Linked DNA regions of Homo sapiens: region 2 is linked to region 1. The links come from fine-mapping of genetic effects on gene expression. A gene starts in region 1. The other region holds a variant in brackets. All regions are shown on one strand. Distances are from middle to middle.

Region 1 (8,327 bases):
TTCAGTGGAGAAAATACCCCAGGAACTCATGAGGGAGCTAAGGCTACCCTGGAAAGAAGGATTGAGAAAGGATTGGGGTCAGGGGTTTCAGAGGGGCAGGGCTCCTTTGGAGAAGCTGAACCTGTGGCCCTGGGGGAGCTGCTGTGCCTCTTTTTAGCTGTGACCCTGCGTAATGTGATTACCATCCTGAGCCCCATATGCCTTTCAATAAGAGACTGCTATCTTCCTGCTGACCCCCACGGGAGGAAGCCCTGTGACAAGGATAAGGCCAGATATCTCACTAGAGACCACACTCTGGAAGTATCCATCCCCAGCCCAAGTCTCTAGCCCTCGATTGCCAGAGTGGAGGGAAGGATGTCAAAGCATTGGCCATTGCCAGGCCAGCCAGTCTTGCAGGGGCCAGAGACAGGAACAAGGGGTTAAAGTCAGATTCTGGGCATTGCAGTGAAGTCAGAGAAATAGATCTGTGGCTCCCTGATCCCAGACACCTCTCAGCCACTTAGAGCCACGCAGTACCCAGGCCCATCCAGCTCTGCTGAAGTTTGTCCAGTGCTTCAACCCAGGAAAACCCTATGGCCTCCAAACCAACTGATAAATATGTCAGAAAACACTCATTTGTGGCTGGGTGCAGTGGCTCACGCCTGTAATCCCAACACTTTGGGAGGCCGAGGAGGGCAGATCACCTGAGGTCAAGAGTTCAAAACCAGCCTGGCCAACATGTTGAAACCCCGTCTCTACCAAAAATACAAAAATTAGCCGGGCATGGTGGTGGGTGCCTGTAGTCGGGGGGCTGAGGCATAAGAATCACGTGAACCTGGGAGGCGGAGGTTACAGTGAGCTGAGATCACACCATTGCACTCCAGCCTAGGTGACAGAGCAAGACTCCAACTCAAAAACAAAAAAACAGGCCGGGCCTGGTGGCTTACGTCTGTAGTCCCAGCACTTTGGGAGGCTGAGGCGGGCGGATCACAAGGTCAGGAGTTCAAGACCAGCCTGGCCAACATAGTGAAACCCCGTCTCTACTAAAAATAAAAAAATTAGCCGGGAGTGGTGGCGGGAGCTTGTAATCCCAGCTACTCAGGAGGCTGAGGCAGGAGAATGGCTTGAACCCGGGAGGTGGAGGCTGCAGTGAGACAAGATCGTGCCACTGCACTCCAGACTGGTGACAGAGCAAGACTCCGTCTCAAACAACAACAACAAAACAAAAAACAAAAAACAAAACAGGCCGGGAGCGGTGGCTCACACTTGTAATCCCAGCACTTTGGGAGGCGGAGGCGGGCAGATCACCAGGTCAGGAGTTCGAGACCAACATGGTGAAACCCTGTCACTACTAAAAATATAAAAAATTAGCTGGGCGTGGTGGTGAGTGCCTATAGTCCCAGCTACTCAGAAGGCTTAAGCAGAAGAATTGCTTGAACCTGGGAGGCAGAGGTTGCAGTGAGCCGAAATCGCGCCACTGAACTCCAGCCTGGGTGACGAAGCAAGACTCCATCTCAAAAAACAAAACAAAACAAAACAAAAAAACACTTTCTTATGCTTAGCAAGGAGAGAGGGTGTCCCCACTCTGTATCTTTAATGTAGCTATTCTTTATGTTGCTTTAATATTTTTATACCCATATATCCATACATATAAACAGCATTAATTTCTAGCTCTATATAAAACTTCCCATATGTCAGGCATAGTTCTAAGTGCTTTGTCTGTATTTATCCATTTAATCTTCACAACAACATCTAAGTCTAATTTCGAGATGAGGAAACTGAGGCATAAGGAGTTAAGTAATTTGTCCCAGGAAGTCTGGCATCAGAATCTTACTGTCTTGAATGGGCACAGTGGCACACGCCTATAATCCCAGTGCTTTGGGAGGCCGAGGCGAGAGGATTGCTTGAGCCCAGGAGATCGAAGCTGCAGTGAGCTGTGATCACACCACTGCACTCCAGCCTGGGTGACAGAGTTAAAAAAAAATTTGTTATATTCACCTTTTGAATTTTCTCTTCTGTTCCCTTTTATCTTCTTTCTAAACAAAACAAAACAAAGAATCGTATTGTCTTAACCACCAAGACACCAAGAGGTAAGCCAGAGAGAGAGAGAGAGAGAGAAAGACAGAGGCTAGGTGCAGTGGCTCACGCCTATAATCCCAGCACTTTGGGAGGCTGAGGCGGGTGGATCATTTGAGGTAAGGAGTTCAAGACCAGCCTGGCCAACATGGTGAAACCCTGTCTCTACTACAAAAATTGGCCGGGAAGTAGTGGCCCATGCCTATAATTCCAGCTACTTGGGAGGCTGAGGCTGGAGAATTACTTGAGCCTGGGAGGCGGAGGTTGCAGTGAACCGAGATCATGCCACTATACTCCAGTCTGGGTGACAGAGTGAGACCCTGTCTCAAAAAAAAAAAAAAAAAAAAGAGAAAGAGAAAGAGATTTTATATAGTGAGATTTTCATATATCTGAGATGAGATTTGATATATGTATACAATTTTACACATTGCATACATGTGATCATATACACCTTTTATTTATTTATTTTGAGATGGAGTTTCGCTCTTGTTGCCCAGGCTGGAGTGCAATGGCGCGATCTCGGCTCACTGCAACCTCTACCTCCCAGGTTCAAGCGATTCTCCTGCCTCAGCCTCCCGAGTAGCTGGGATTACAGGCATGCGCCACCACACCTGGCTGATCTTGTATTTTTAGTAGAGGGGGTTTCTCCATGTTGGTCAGGCTGGTCTTGAACTCCCGACCGCAGGTGATCTGCCCACCTTGGCCTCCCAAAGTGCTGGGATTACAGGCATAAGCCACCATGCCCAGCCATATATGGCCATACACATCTTTTAATGTGTTGTTTTCCTTTAACATTTTTTCCTTCCCTATTCACATTAGTTCCTCCCACCATAGAATCCATAATATCACTTTAATGTGTTATCTATGTTTTTTATGTATTCATTATACATAGACTTATATATACTGATACCTTTAATCACATACACATATACAAGGTTTCTTTTTGTCATTATTTTAAAATAGTCTCTTAAAAAATAAAAATAGTGGATCATATTAAATAAATATTTCTGCATCTCACTTTTCTCACACACCTGGAAACCCCTGCAATTTTATTAATTTGTAATTTTTTTTATTTTTTTATTTTTGAGACAGGGTCTCGCTCTGTTACCCAGACTGGAGTGCAGTGGCACGATCAGGGCTCACTGCAGCCTTGACCTCCCGGGTTCAAGCAATCCTTCCACCTCAGCCTCCTGAGTAGCTGGGGCTACAGGTGCGCACCATTACACCTGACTAATTTTAAATTTTTTTGTAGAGACCAGTTCTCAGTTTGTTACCCAGGCTGGTCTGGAACTCCTGGGCTCAAAAGATCTTCCTTCCTAGGCCTCCCAAAGTGCTGGGATTACAGATGTGAGCCACCGGGCCTTAGGTATCCGATGGGAATTCCAGGCCAGGTGGGAGGAAAGGGTAGTGCATTGGCACCAAGTAACGTTTCTGGCTGGGTCTTGCCCATCCCCTTGTTGGGTGGCCAGGAGCGCTCAGCCTCCAGAGGCAGGAATGCTGACTGTGTTATTGTGAAATCATTTGCATATTGTGAAGTGCTTTGCATAAGATGGAGCGCTTTTGCATACAGGGAGGGGGGCATTTTAGAAGTCCTAGGGCAGGATCCCTGAGTAGCTTTTCTTTGCCAAGAAACTAACCCAGGGATTCCATTTTGGAACTCAGGGAGGGAACAGAACGTCCTGGCAGTTGTATGGGCCCGGTGGGGTGAGATGGACAGAAAGCTTCAGAAGACAAGCTGGGCCACCAGGGAGAAGTTGGCGGTCTAAGGAAGGCCAACAGTGCAACATGAAGTGGGACAGGCACCAGAGGCAGCCCTGAGAGCTGAGTGTGCTCTCAAGAGCCCCAGCAGAGGGGAAAGTGACAGAGTAAATGGTTGGAGCTGCCATGGGAGGCTGATGAGGGTCAGAGACTTAAGAGACCTGTACTCAGTCGCTATCTCTGCCCAAGTGAGTACCCACATGCCCCTTCCTGAATCTTCTCCTGTACTGGCTGATTTCCAGAGAAGAATACAAACTCGAAACGCCAAGCCAGACTCCCACTGCTGTTCAGGACCTAGACGTGAGAAGTGGTATCACATACTCTGGCTTCAGGACACCCAGGTTTGAATCCTGGCTCTGCCATCTGTGCCACTGTGTGACCCTGGGCTAACAGTACCCACCACAATGGGATAATATGAGGATTCAGTGAGATAGTGCGAGTAAAGTGAATAGCACATAGTAGGTGGTCAGTAAATTGCGGTTATAAGAACTGCTATCCAGTGTTTGCTGCCTTAGTCTAACCAAAGAGGTCAGGTCTAGCTTCCTCCAGGTGAGGGAAGCACAGAGCCCTCGCCTCCCAGGTTTGGAGTTCCCATCAGCAGGGTCCAGCCACCATGCATTGGACCCCAAAGGGTTACAAGCCCTGGAGACAGTGGCCTGAGGTTCCCAGTGAAAAACCAAAGCATAAAAATAATTCGATGAGTAAGAATAAAATTCCCTCTTCTGAGGTTCCCGGGGCCAGGCCCCTCCCTGCGGCAGGCACTTCCCCTTTCCCTTGCTCATGGAGGAGCCAGGCCGGGCTGACTCAGAGCAGGAGCGCACAGTAGTCCTCCCAGCCCGACCTGGGCGGCGTGGTCTGGCGGCCGGGCGCGCCCCCGTGCGGCCACGGGCAGACTGCGGCCCTGGACGGGAAGCGGCGGCCAGATCCGCAAGCCCCGCAGCCTGGTCGATCGCGGTCCCCGCAGAGCCGCCGCTTCCGTCCCTGCCCAGCCTGGCTGAGCGCGGTGCGTGTGGCTCTCTCACTTCCGACCGACCCTCCCCTCCGGCCCGCAGCCCTGCCCAAACGGAAGTGCGCCCTCTACCCGGGTCCCCCACCGCCGCGAGGCGGAAGCGCCCTCCCGCCGCCACTCCCCCCGACCCCGCGGCACGCGGCGCCTCGGGTTCCGGACAGGCCCCTTGTGACGTGGCCGCGCGCCGGGGGCGGCCCCGGGCCGGGGGCCGGGCGGCCGGGCGGCCGGGCGGGGCAGAGCCTGGGCGGGGCGCGGCACCGCAGCTGGATGGCTGGGGCCGCCCGGATCGCCGCCGCCGCCGCCGCACGGTGAGTGCCAGCAGGACCCTCGGGGCCCGCGCCCCGGGCGTGATGGACCCGGCCGATCCCTCGCCCCGTCCGACTGGTCCTCATCAGACCTGGGCCGGCTCCCAGGACCCGGGAGTCAGGCTCGCCCGCTTCGGCCTCCTCTCCCCCATCGCTCCGCGCCCCACGCCCCATCCCTCCCTCGCTGTCCTCTCCGCGTCCCACCCGCCTCTCTCTAGCTCTCTCACTCTCTACTTTCCTCTCCCCTTGGACTCTCCGTGTATTCCCTCCCGCTAGCCTGTGGTCCCCTCACCTCTGCGTGACCGCCTCGTCCTGGCCCAGTCTTGCCTGTGGTCCCCAGTGGAGCCCCGCTGGCTTCATCAGTGCCCCTGATTAGTTAAGGCCTGGAGGTCCTAGACATGGGCATCTCTGCCACCACCCAGAGGCAGCTGCTTTCTTCCCCTCCCATCTCCATCAGAAGGTGAGGAAACTGAGGCAGGGACATCACCAGCTCAAGGTCACAGCCAGCCTGAGGCAGAGCAGACCACATTTAAACCTCATGCCCGAGTTTCCAGATGGAACTTCTCGCTTGGTTGACTCACGTCCACATCCTGTGATCGGCCGGCTGGGCACATTCCTGCTGCAGGGAGCCCCAGGCCTTCCCTGGCACAGGCAGGGCCTCTGCGCCTCCTCATGCCGGGTACATCCACCTGCACTTTCAGGCTTATCTCGTCCTCACAGCTGAGGCAGGTGATATTGATCCCTGTCCTGCAGATGAGGGCACTGAGGCTCAGAGGGGGGGCTTCAGAGATTTGCCCAGAGTTAGACAGCTCAAAGTGCAGCATAGAATTCACCGTGGGGGCTCTAAAGCCTGCGCTATACAAGAGAGAGGCATCCCCTGGCTAAAGGCTCCTTCCTCATCAGCCCCATCTCCTGTTGCCCTCAGTGCCCTGGGGACATTGGTCTCATGTCCTAGGAAGAAGCGTGGATGGTCTTGCCCTGGCTCATCTGCTCAGTTTCCCCACGTATGTCTCTCTGAATCCACCCCATCCCCTTAGAAGGGGTGCCTCAGTCTCTGGGGTGTCGCGGGCGGCAGGGCCTCCCCTGGCAGCCAGAGACACCCAGCTGGGCCGGGCCGTGCCGCCGGTGGCTGAGGAGAGCCAGCCAGCGCCTCACCCTGTCATTAGGGAAAGTTTAGCCTCAGGCGGAGGTGCTGACACAGTCTGGAGCTGCTCAGAAGGAAAAAATACGCAGTGCTCAGGAGTAGGGTGTGGAGACACAGGGCCCCATTGCTGTGCACCCAGCATTTGGATGCTCAGACGCTCTGGCAAGGACAGCAGGAGGGTGGATGCCAGGGTCCCTTGCGGGGAGGAGGGAGGCGCCACGTTTCCTAAGCAGGTGTGCGGCCAAGGCTGTAGCTCATATAGGTGGCCTTTTGTGTTTTTCAGTACGTGGCATGCCTGGATGTCCCTGCCCTGGCTGTGGCATGGCGGGCCCAAGGCTCCTCTTCCTCACTGCCCTTGCCCTGGAGCTCTTGGAAAGGGCTGGGGGTTCCCAGCCGGCCCTCCGGAGCCGGGGGACTGCGACGGCCTGTCGCCTGGACAACAAGGAAAGCGAGTCCTGGGGGGCTCTGCTGAGCGGAGAGCGGCTGGACACCTGGATCTGCTCCCTCCTGGGTTCCCTCATGGTGGGGCTCAGTGGGGTCTTCCCGTTGCTTGTCATTCCCCTAGAGATGGGGACCATGCTGCGCTCAGAAGGTAGGTGACTCTCCGGTGGCGCCCAGGGCTGGCCAGGGTGTGGGAAGCATGCTGCTGCTCTTCTTAGGAGACCCCAGGTCACAGAGTGTCTGAGATGGAGGGAGAGGATAGAATAGAACTTCTCCCCTTGGTCCTGTAGGAGCTATCTAGCCAGGGGCGGCTGGCTCTGGCTTCCCCAGGAAGCTATGAGCACCTGGTAGCAGGGCCTGCCCCTGGGGAGGGGGTCTAGGAGATGGGGATGTGGGCACGGGTGGGAGCTTTGTCCTGACTACCCTTTTGTACCATGAGCATGTACTGCCCGTTCACAAATAACATGTTGTAACAAAACACGCAGGAGAGCTCTAGGGAGCTGCTAAGAATGCACGTGCCTATCCCCCACCTAAGAGGGGTGGACCAAGGCCCTGGGAATCTGTTAGAAACGAGCATCCCAGGGGCTGGTGCTGCCAGCTGGATGCTCAGGAACCATTCACTTACCAGATGGTTACCCAGCAGCTCTGTGCCAGGCACTGGGCTGAGGGCGGTGCCACAGCTGTGAATAGAGCCCTGCTTGGGCCATGGTCAGGCCTGTGCTCAACCCTCAGAGCAGCCCTGCGGGGTCAGTGCAGGGAGCACCTGGATTATTAGTTCCATTTTACAAGTGGGGATGCACAGGCACAGAGAGGTTCTTTGACCAGTCCAAGGTCACCCAGCCAGGAAATAGCAGTTTCCCCTGGGATCCCACCCCAAACCCAGCTGCCTCTGTCCTCTAGGCCTCAGTTTCTCTATCAAGCCAAAGGGTTGGACATGGCTTTCAGGCAGGCGACTTCCAACCCTGGATGCTGCAAGTCCCCAAATCTCTGCCACTTTTCTGAGAGTGACAGCAGCTGAGAAGAGAAAAATTCCCACGTAATGAGCACTTGCTGTACATATTGTCATTTAATTCCCATAAGAGCCCATAAAAGGCTCACAGCTGTAATCTCAGCAGTTTGGGAGGCTGAGGTGGGCAGATCACCTGAGGTCAGGAGTTCGAGACCAGCCTGGCCAACATGATGAAACCCCGTCTCTACCAAAAATACAAAAATTAGCCGGATGTGGTGGCACACACCTGTAATCCCAGCTACTCAGGAGGCTGAGGCAGGAGAGTCGCTTGAACCTGGGAGATGGAGGTTGCAGTGAACCAAGATCACGCCACTGCACTCCAGCCTGGGCAACAGAGCGAGACTCCATCTCAAAACAAAACAAGATAAAATAATAATTCCCATAAGACCCAATTTACAGATGGAGAAACCGAGTCTCCAAAGTCATCTGCCAAGGTCACCAGCTAGTGGGTTGGGAGCTGGGACCTGTCAGCTCTTCACCATGACATGGTGGTGGCCCTGTGGGCATTTGGCAGGGTGTGGTGTTTCTGCTGTGAGGTGGGGGACCCAGGAAGAGCAGCCACCCATATCCAGCCTTGCAGGCCCAGAAAGAGCCCAGTGAGTGGGG
Region 2 (8,327 bases), 140 kb after region 1:
TGTATGCGGTGATGAAAACATTTTGGAAAGATCACAGTGATGATTGCACAACACCTCAATGTAACTAATGTCACTGAATTATACACTTAAAAATGGTTAAAACGGGCCGGGCACGGTGGCTCAAGCCTGTAATCCCAACACTTTGGGAGGCTGAGGCAGGTGGATCACGAGGTCTGGAGTTCAAGACCAGCCTGGCCAAGATGGTGAAACCCCGTCTCTACTAAAAATACAAAAATTAGCCAGGCACAGTGGCAGGAACCTGTAATCCCAGCTACTCGGGAGGCTGAGGTAGGAGAATCGCTTGAACCAGGGCGACAGAGATTGCAGTGAGCCAAGATCGAGTCACTGCACTCTAGGCTGGGTGACAGAGTGAGACTCCGTCTCAAAAAAAAAGGTTAAAACAACCTAAATGTAAGACCTAAAACTATAAAACTCCTAGAAGAAAATATAGAGGAAAAACTTCATGATATTGGATTTGACAATGATTTCATGGATATGACACCAAGTGCGCAGGCAACAAAACCAGAAATAAACAAATGGGACTATATCGAACATGAAATATTTTGTGTATCAAAGCATACAATCGACAAAGTGAAAGACAAATTACAGAATGGGAGAAAATATCTGCAAATCATCTATCTAATAAGGGGTTAATATCCAGAAAATAGAGGCTGGGTGCGGTGGCTCACATCTGTAATCCCAGTACTTTGGGAGGTCGAGGCGGGCGGATCACCTGAGGTTGGGAGTTCGAGACCAGCCTGGCCAACATGGTGAAACTCCCTCTCTACTAAAAATACAAAAATTAGCCGGGCGTGGTAGCGCATGACTGTAGTCCCAGCTACTCAGGAGGCCAAGGCAGGAGAATGGCTTGAACCCAGTGGGCGGAAGTTGCAGTGAGCAGAGATCACACCACTGCACTCCAGCCTGGGCAACAGAGCAAGACTCCATCTCAAAAAAAAAAAAAAAAAAAATCCAGAAAATATAAAGAACTTCTATAATTCAACAATACAAAATCAAAAAACTTGATTAAAAACTGGGAAATGGCCTTGAACAGACATTTCTCCAAAGATAATATATAAATGGCCAACAAGCATATGAAAAGATGCTCAACATCACTAGTCAGCAGAGAAATACAAATCAAAACTACCACAGTGAGGTATCTCACACCCATTAAGATGGCCATGAAAAAATAAAAAGTATTGTCAAGGATGTAGAGAAACTGGAACCCTTGTGTACTACTGGCAAGACTGTAAAATGGTGCAACTGCTATAGAAAAAAGTATAGGGGTTCTTCAAAAAACAAACAAACAAATAAAAAAACACTATTCCAGTGGCCTAGATTCTTTCAAAATAATAAAAATTAAAAACAGAATTATCACTTGATCCAGCAATCCCACTTTGGGGTATATATCCAAAACAACTGATATTGTTCCAGAGGCTGGAATACCTATTTGCACACCTAGTCACATTAGCACTATTCACAATAGCCAAGAGGTAGCTGCAACCCAAAAGTCCATTAGTGGATGCAGTCCATAAACAATATGATATATATATATACACAATGGAGTATTAGCCTTAAAAAGGAAATAAATCCGGTCACACAGTACAACATGGATGAGTCTTGAGGACATTACACTAAGTGAAATAAGTCTGTCACAAAAAACAGACATGGTATGATTCCACTTACATGATGTTATCTAAAGTAGTCAAATTGGTAGAAACAGAAATAATGGTGGTTACCAGGGGCTAGTAGGAGGGGGAAAAGGGGAGCTGTTGTCCAACAGGCATAGAGTTTCAGATACGCAAGATGAAAAACTCACAGATCTGTTTTCCAACAGTGCGAATGTACTTAATGTCACAGAACACTTAAAAATGGCTAAGTTAGTAAATGTTGTGGGTTTTTTTTGTTTTTTTTTTTTCTGAGACAGAGTCTTGCCTTGTTGCCCAGGCTGGAGTGCAGTGGTGCAATCTCAGCTCACTGCAACCTCCACCTCCTGGGCTCAAGGGATTCTCCTGCCTCAGCCTCCCAAGTAGCTGGGACTACAGGCACATGCCACCACACCTGGTTAATTTCTGTATTTTTAGTGGAGATGGGGTTTGACCATATTGGCCAGGCTGGTCTCGAACTCCTGACCTCGTGATCCGCCCACCTCAGCCTCCCAAAGTGCTGGGATTACAGGTGTGAGCCACTGCGCCCAGCCAATTTTGTGTTTTTAACCACAATTTTAAAATGTAGGCCAGGCTCAGTGGCTCACATCTGTAATCCGAAGTTCAAAACCAGCCTGGGCAAAACAGTGACACCCTGTCTCTACAAAAACAAACAAACAAAAAAAAACACCGGGTACGGTGGCTTACACCTATAATCCTAGTACTTTGGGAGGCTGAGGTGGGCAGATCACCTGAGGTCAGGAGTTCTAGATCGGCCTGGCCAACATGGTGAAACCCCATCTCTACTAAAAATACAAAAACCCTCTGGGCGCAGTGGTGGGCGCCTGTAATCACAGCTACTCGGGAGGCTGAGGCAGGAGAACTGCTTGAGCCCGGGGGACAGGGTGTGCAGTGAGCACTCCAGTATGGTTGACAGAGCAAGACTCCATGGCGGGGTTGGGGGGGACCGGACCCACATCACAAAACTGTGACTAAGATAAGCCTATTTTGGGAAGATAGGCATTTCTATAGCATATGAAAAGGATGGGCAAGATAAAGACCCAATATTTAACAATCATCTCTGAGTGGTGGCACTATGGGTGAGTTTCTTCATTTTTTGACTTACCTGTTTTTTTTTTATAGTGAATCTGTAACTTCTGTATTAAGAAAAATACACGGAAGTCTTTAGAAAAAAATCATTTTGGCTAAAAACTTCACTGTCTGCCTATTACATCATGGGTATTTCACCATGTTACTGAAGCTGAACTAATACCATGTGAGACAGATGCTGTTTCTTTCATTTTGCAGGTGCGAATAAACTGAGGAGCAGAACAGTTGAGTGACTTGCCAAGGTTGTGTAACCAGTAAATGACAGAGCAAGCATTACAATCCAGGCCTAGTTCTAACTTCAATTCAGGGTCCTTTCCCATTTCATTACACCTCAAAGGGAAGATTGCATTATTACTCGTGATATTGTTTAAAAAAAAAAAAAACATAACCTTGGGCAAGTAAGTCACTTAATTTCTAGGGCCCTCAGTTTCCTCATCCAAAAAGTGAAGGGGTTCTAGAAAAGATATTCCATCTCTAACAGCCCCTCTTGCTACCAGATCTTAAGTCTAGATAGCACAATCTCTAAAGAAAACCCTGGGTTTTCTTTAAAGGGGTCAGAATGAATGGTTGAATAGAAGTTGAGGCCTGTGATCTGGGCCAAAGGCCATTCTTAATGGAAACAGGTGGTGGACTGTCATGAGGAAAGAACCACTAGGGGAACCATAACCTTCCTGGTTAAAGCAACAACTGAAAGCTCCAGCTTTGCTTTACCAACAGTGCTGCTTCAATCTTGGCTAACTCATGATCAGAAACCACATACTAGGTAAGTAAAGCCTGAAGAATATAAAAATTAACATGAGAAGAAAATCACTGTAGCAACAGTTTGTGCATGCTATTGTAATTCCATGATTTTCTAAGTGGACTCTTTAATGCTAAAACAGAAAGGGTGATTCTATATTGAGACGCCTTCATTCTCACCAAGGATTAATAGAGAGGCTGAAACTTCCAAAGCGCTTGGAGAGAAGCTACACTTGTGGGCAAGGGGAAAGCATCCAATTAAAGCCTTCCCAATTCATGGGTAATCAAAGACAGTGAAAAGAACTTTAAAAGGTGAAGTTCCGGGCGGGGGCGGTGGCTCACGCCTGTAATCCCCAGCACTCTGGGAGGTCGAGGCGGGTGGATCACCCGAGGTCAGGAGTTCGAGACCATCCAGCCTGATCAACATGGTGAAACCCCGTCTATACTAAAAATACGAAAATTAGCCAGGCCTGGTGGCACATGCCTGTAATCCCAGCTACTTGGGAGGCTGAGGCAGGAGAATTGCTTGAACCTGGGGAGGTTGCAGTGAGCCGAGATAGCGCCACTGCACTCCAGCCTAAGCAACAAGAGCGAAACTCCGTCTTAAAAAAAAAAAAAAAAAAGATGAAGTTCTTGTAAAAGATTCATTATTTGTAACCTCTTACACTGCACACATTATAAAGCATTTCATGCTCTTTAAAACTGTTATACAGCCTTTTTACTCGAAGGTAATAAACCTACAGCTCTCTCCTGGCGAGAAAGAGATTCCATTTTGCGGAAACAGATTCCAGTCAAAATCTTACCACATTCCCCTCAACTATGGGTATGAGCCTAAACCAATGAGAAGCTCCTTGGTGCATGTGTAATGGTCTCCAAGAATTACAACAACATCCTACCCGGAGGACCACAACCACGACACCACTGGCTTTAAAATCAAAGCCTGGTCCCTAGCGAAGAAAGCGCTTTAATGTGCTCCTCCCGCTCCCGGGTGCGAGATTCCTGCCCAGCTACTAGGCCACGACTGGGTGAGCACCTGATGTGGGGGGAGGGCGAGCCAAGGCCGTAGCGGATCTGGGGCGAGGAACGAGGGGCTCTCGAGGCTCGGGAAAAGCGCTGCCTT[C/G]TAGGGGCGCGGACCCTTCGGCACCCACAGGAGTGGACACTAAGAACACGTGAGACGACAGGGGCAGAGATGGGGTGTCCCGGGCAGGTAGCCTGGGTCCAGCACGGCAGCCAGAAAGACGAGGAAAACGGAGCTGGCCCTGGGCAGGGCACGAGGCCTCTGAGCCTAGAGAGTGAAGGTAAAGGGCGCGGGGAGAGGAAGCAAAGCCACGAGGAGGGCGGGTCTCCCTGGGCGCGGGGGCACGCGCTGGGCAAACGCGACAGGACCCGGGGAGCCGGGGACCCCGACATGCAGGAGGAGATCGCAGCCCTACCCCAGGACGCAGGGAACGAGAAAAGGCCGCGCCCGGAGGGCCCTGTGACCCGCGGCCTCCCTAACCGGACCCGCCCCGCGGCGCCTCCCTCTTGCCTTTTTTCCCCTCCCTCCCTCCCGCGGCCCGTTATCCTGCGGCCGCAGCACTCACCAGCGGCTGCACCTGAGCCTGCCGCTGCCTCAGTTGCTGCCTGCGCCTCCGCAGCCGCCGCCGCCGCCTCGCTGCTGAGGCCGAATCCCGGGGGAGCCTCCGCGTCCCGCCGCCGCTGCCGCTGCCGCCAGAGCAGAACACCCCAAAATGGCGGCACTTCCGGCACCTACCACCGGCGGGGAGGGCAGAGGAGGAGGGGGAGCGCGGCGAGGGGGAACGTATCACCGCGGCGCCGCCCGCAGCGCCGATGCGAGCGGAGCGCGGCGTAGGGGCGGGCCGAGCGCCGGGCGCTGCAGCGCCCCCTCGGGCTGGGAAGTGGAGGAGCAGCCGCACCTAAGCCCCTGGGGCCGCGGGCGGAGCCCTCAACCTAGGGAGCTGCAGGGGCGCATCTCTTTGTCTCCGATCCCTACTGGAGGGAAGAGCCAGGCCTGGGAATCTGAAGTTCTCGACTCCGCCCATCGCACCCACAGGAGCTCTAGATGACCCTGGTGGGCAAGGAGGCACCCCTACTGGGCACTGAATAGGAGCATAATAAGATATTTGTTGAATAAATGGATGAGTGAGTGACTGGTGCTTGGCCAGCGTTGGGCACATGGCACGCCCCTTTTTGCCCCAGCAGACAAGCAACAGCATCCAGGCCTTCCTTCTTTGCTGGGATGTGAATATGTGTGTTCCAAGTGCAGGGAGTGCTTTTTAGCAAGATAATCAGTGTGAACGCACAACCTGGCAACGATCGCTGCGACATAAGGAAGTTCACAAAGATTCTATTAAGAGACCGATTGCCCAGCCATAACCTGCTTTTACCGAAAAAAAAATATATATATATATTTTTTTTTCTTAACTCAGGTTAGGTCTCTAAAGACTTCCTCCTGAGTTACTCTGGAATCCCTGGGTCTAGATGGAACGCAAGCAGTACAATTTGTTGTTGTTGTTGTTGTTGTTTAAGCCAACATTTATTCCTAGGTTCCAGACCTTGTGAGGCAGTTAAATGCAGATTAAGAAAGAAAACTTTGTTCTGGAAGCTTTTGGCCCCATCAACATGCAAATAACTCATGGGATGGTTTCTCTCTAACATCATCTGGCTTCCCAGAGAATATAATTTTTATACCCACAAATACTGATTATATCCTACCTTACCACAAACAACAAGTGGGCTTCCAAGCAGAAGCCTCAAGGGTTTTCCTCTTTCGCCTTTGGGGGGGAAAAAAACTAACCAGAGTTTTTCTGGTACCATATAGTCCTTAAATTGTACATGATCATATTCCCTAATTGTACTGGGTAGTTTTATATACATTCATAATGCTGATATATGATCTTGTTCTTGTTAATAGTTTTATGTGTAGTTGACTGAAAACATCCTATATTTATAGACCATTATAGCTTACAGAATGTTGTCACAAATATTACCATATATTTGCTGCTATAGGTTGTAGAAATGTTTCAAGCAGAGAGTCTGTCTCCTTTTGTGCTCCATAGAATCATGTGGATATCCACATGGCTCACTTCCTCACCTCCTTCAGACTTTGACTTAAGTGTCACCTTCTCAGTCCAGTCTTCCCTAAGCACTCTATTTTACACTGCTTGCATGCATGGCATGTGCACACACACACACACCCATGCTTTCAATCCCACTTTCATTTTTATCCAAAACATTTATCATTATCTAACACAGTTTTTTTTTTTTTTTGAGACGGAGTCTAGCTCTTGTCACCCAGGCTGGAGTGCAGTGGCGCGATCTCGGCTCACTGCAACCTCCACCTCCCAGGTTCAAGCAATTCTCCTGCCTCAGCCTCCCGAGTAGCTGGGATTACAGGCGCGTGCCACGATGCCTGACTAATTTTTGTATTTTTAGTGGAGACGGGGTTTCAACCCCTGTTGGTCAGGCTGGTCTCAAACTCCTGACTGCAAGTGTTCTGCCCGCCTCTGCCTCTCAAAGTGCTGGGATTACAGGCGTGAGCCACTGCACCCGGCCTCACAGTATATTTTGTATTTATATATTTTACTTGTTTTATTGACAGTAGCCCAGAAGGTAAACCAAAGGTAAACTTCATGAGGATAGAGGTTTTGTCTGTTTTATTTCACTGCTCTATCCTCAGGGCCTTGATAATGCCTAATCCATAGTACATGCTCAATAAATATTGTTGACTTACTGAATAGGTATATCTAGGTGCCAGATATGGAAAACAAAATGTTGCGCCTTTAGAAGCTTCTTGGAACCTGCCCATGAGCTAAATAAGGAAAGGCACCATGCCCGTCTTATTATATCTCCAGTGCTTTTCACAATATCTGACTCAATAGATATTTCTTGAAGAGCAAACAGAAACTCTTCCATGCCCATCTTGTTATTCTCCTAATATCTCCATTGCTTTTCACTGTATCTAACTCGATAAACTTCTTGAAGAGCAACCAGAAGCTTTTTCCTATTCTATCTGTGCCTTGACTTAGGGCTCCCATTTGCAAGGGAGGAACTTGTAAGGTATTAATATCACTCTTGCATTTAGTTACCAAGGAAGGCCACAGACTGTTAGCCCAAGGTTGGGGGGAAGAACAATTACATGAAGAACACAAATAGATCTTGTAACTTCAAAGGGTTTCAGCAACATAGACAAAATGCTAAACAGTCCAAATACAAAAAAAGCCTAGTGTGAGATTTAAGAGTATGTAAAGCTTCCTGTTTCATGTTTTGCCTTACAAATAGATTAAGATTTATTTTTTTTAAAAAATAGCCAATGTCGGCCAGGCGCGGTAGCTCATGCCTGTAATCCTAGCACTTTGGGAGGCCGAGGCAGATGGATCACCTGAGGTCAGGAGTTCAAGACCAACCTGGTGAAACCCTGTTTCTACTAAAAAATACAAACGTTAGCCAGGCATGATGGCGGGTGCCTGTAATCCCAGCTACTCGGGAGGCTGAGATGGCAGAATAGCTTGAACTTGGGAGACGGTGGTTGCAGTGAGTCGAGATCGAACCACTGCACTCCAGCCTGGGCGACACAGCAAGACTCTGTCTCAAAAAAAAAAAAAAAAAAAAGCCAGTGTTAGTAAGAGTGCAGAGAAATAGCCTTCTCCAAGTGGTGATGGGAGTAAAGTTCAGATAATCTGCCTAGAGGAATCTAAACTTTTACATACCTTTCTAGGAATTTATCCTAAGGGAATATTCATGGATAATGGCAGAGATTGTAACATTTTTTATTTTTTTAATTTTACTTTTCTAGACACAGGGTCTTGCTCTGTCACCCAGCCTGGAGTGTAG

The links. PIP is the estimated chance that this variant, and not a neighbour inherited with it, causes the effect.
Region 2: its variant is fine-mapped to the expression of SLC39A13 in whole blood (TOPMed, PIP 0.95).

The regions. Positions count from the first base shown.
Region 1 is chr11:47,403,533-47,411,859 of GRCh38, forward strand. SLC39A13 (solute carrier family 39 member 13) reads left to right here and starts at 5,058. Exons shown (of 10, transcript NM_001128225.3): 1 at 5,058-5,130; 2 at 6,555-6,863. The coding sequence starts at 6,563. SLC39A13-AS1 (SLC39A13 antisense RNA 1) reads right to left here and starts at 5,750. Exons shown (of 4, transcript NR_182308.1): 1 at 5,420-5,750; 2 at 1,978-2,015. RefSeq lists enhancers at 4,340-5,162, 5,451-6,317, 6,318-7,182 and a silencer at 4,571-5,360.
Region 2 is chr11:47,547,915-47,556,241 of GRCh38, forward strand. CELF1 (CUGBP Elav-like family member 1) reads right to left here and starts at 5,218. Exons shown (of 15, transcript NM_001376376.1): 1 at 5,078-5,218. RefSeq lists enhancers at 3,430-4,105, 4,781-5,456 and silencers at 4,804-4,893, 4,964-5,493. The variant C/G (reference allele first, on the strand shown) is at 4,615.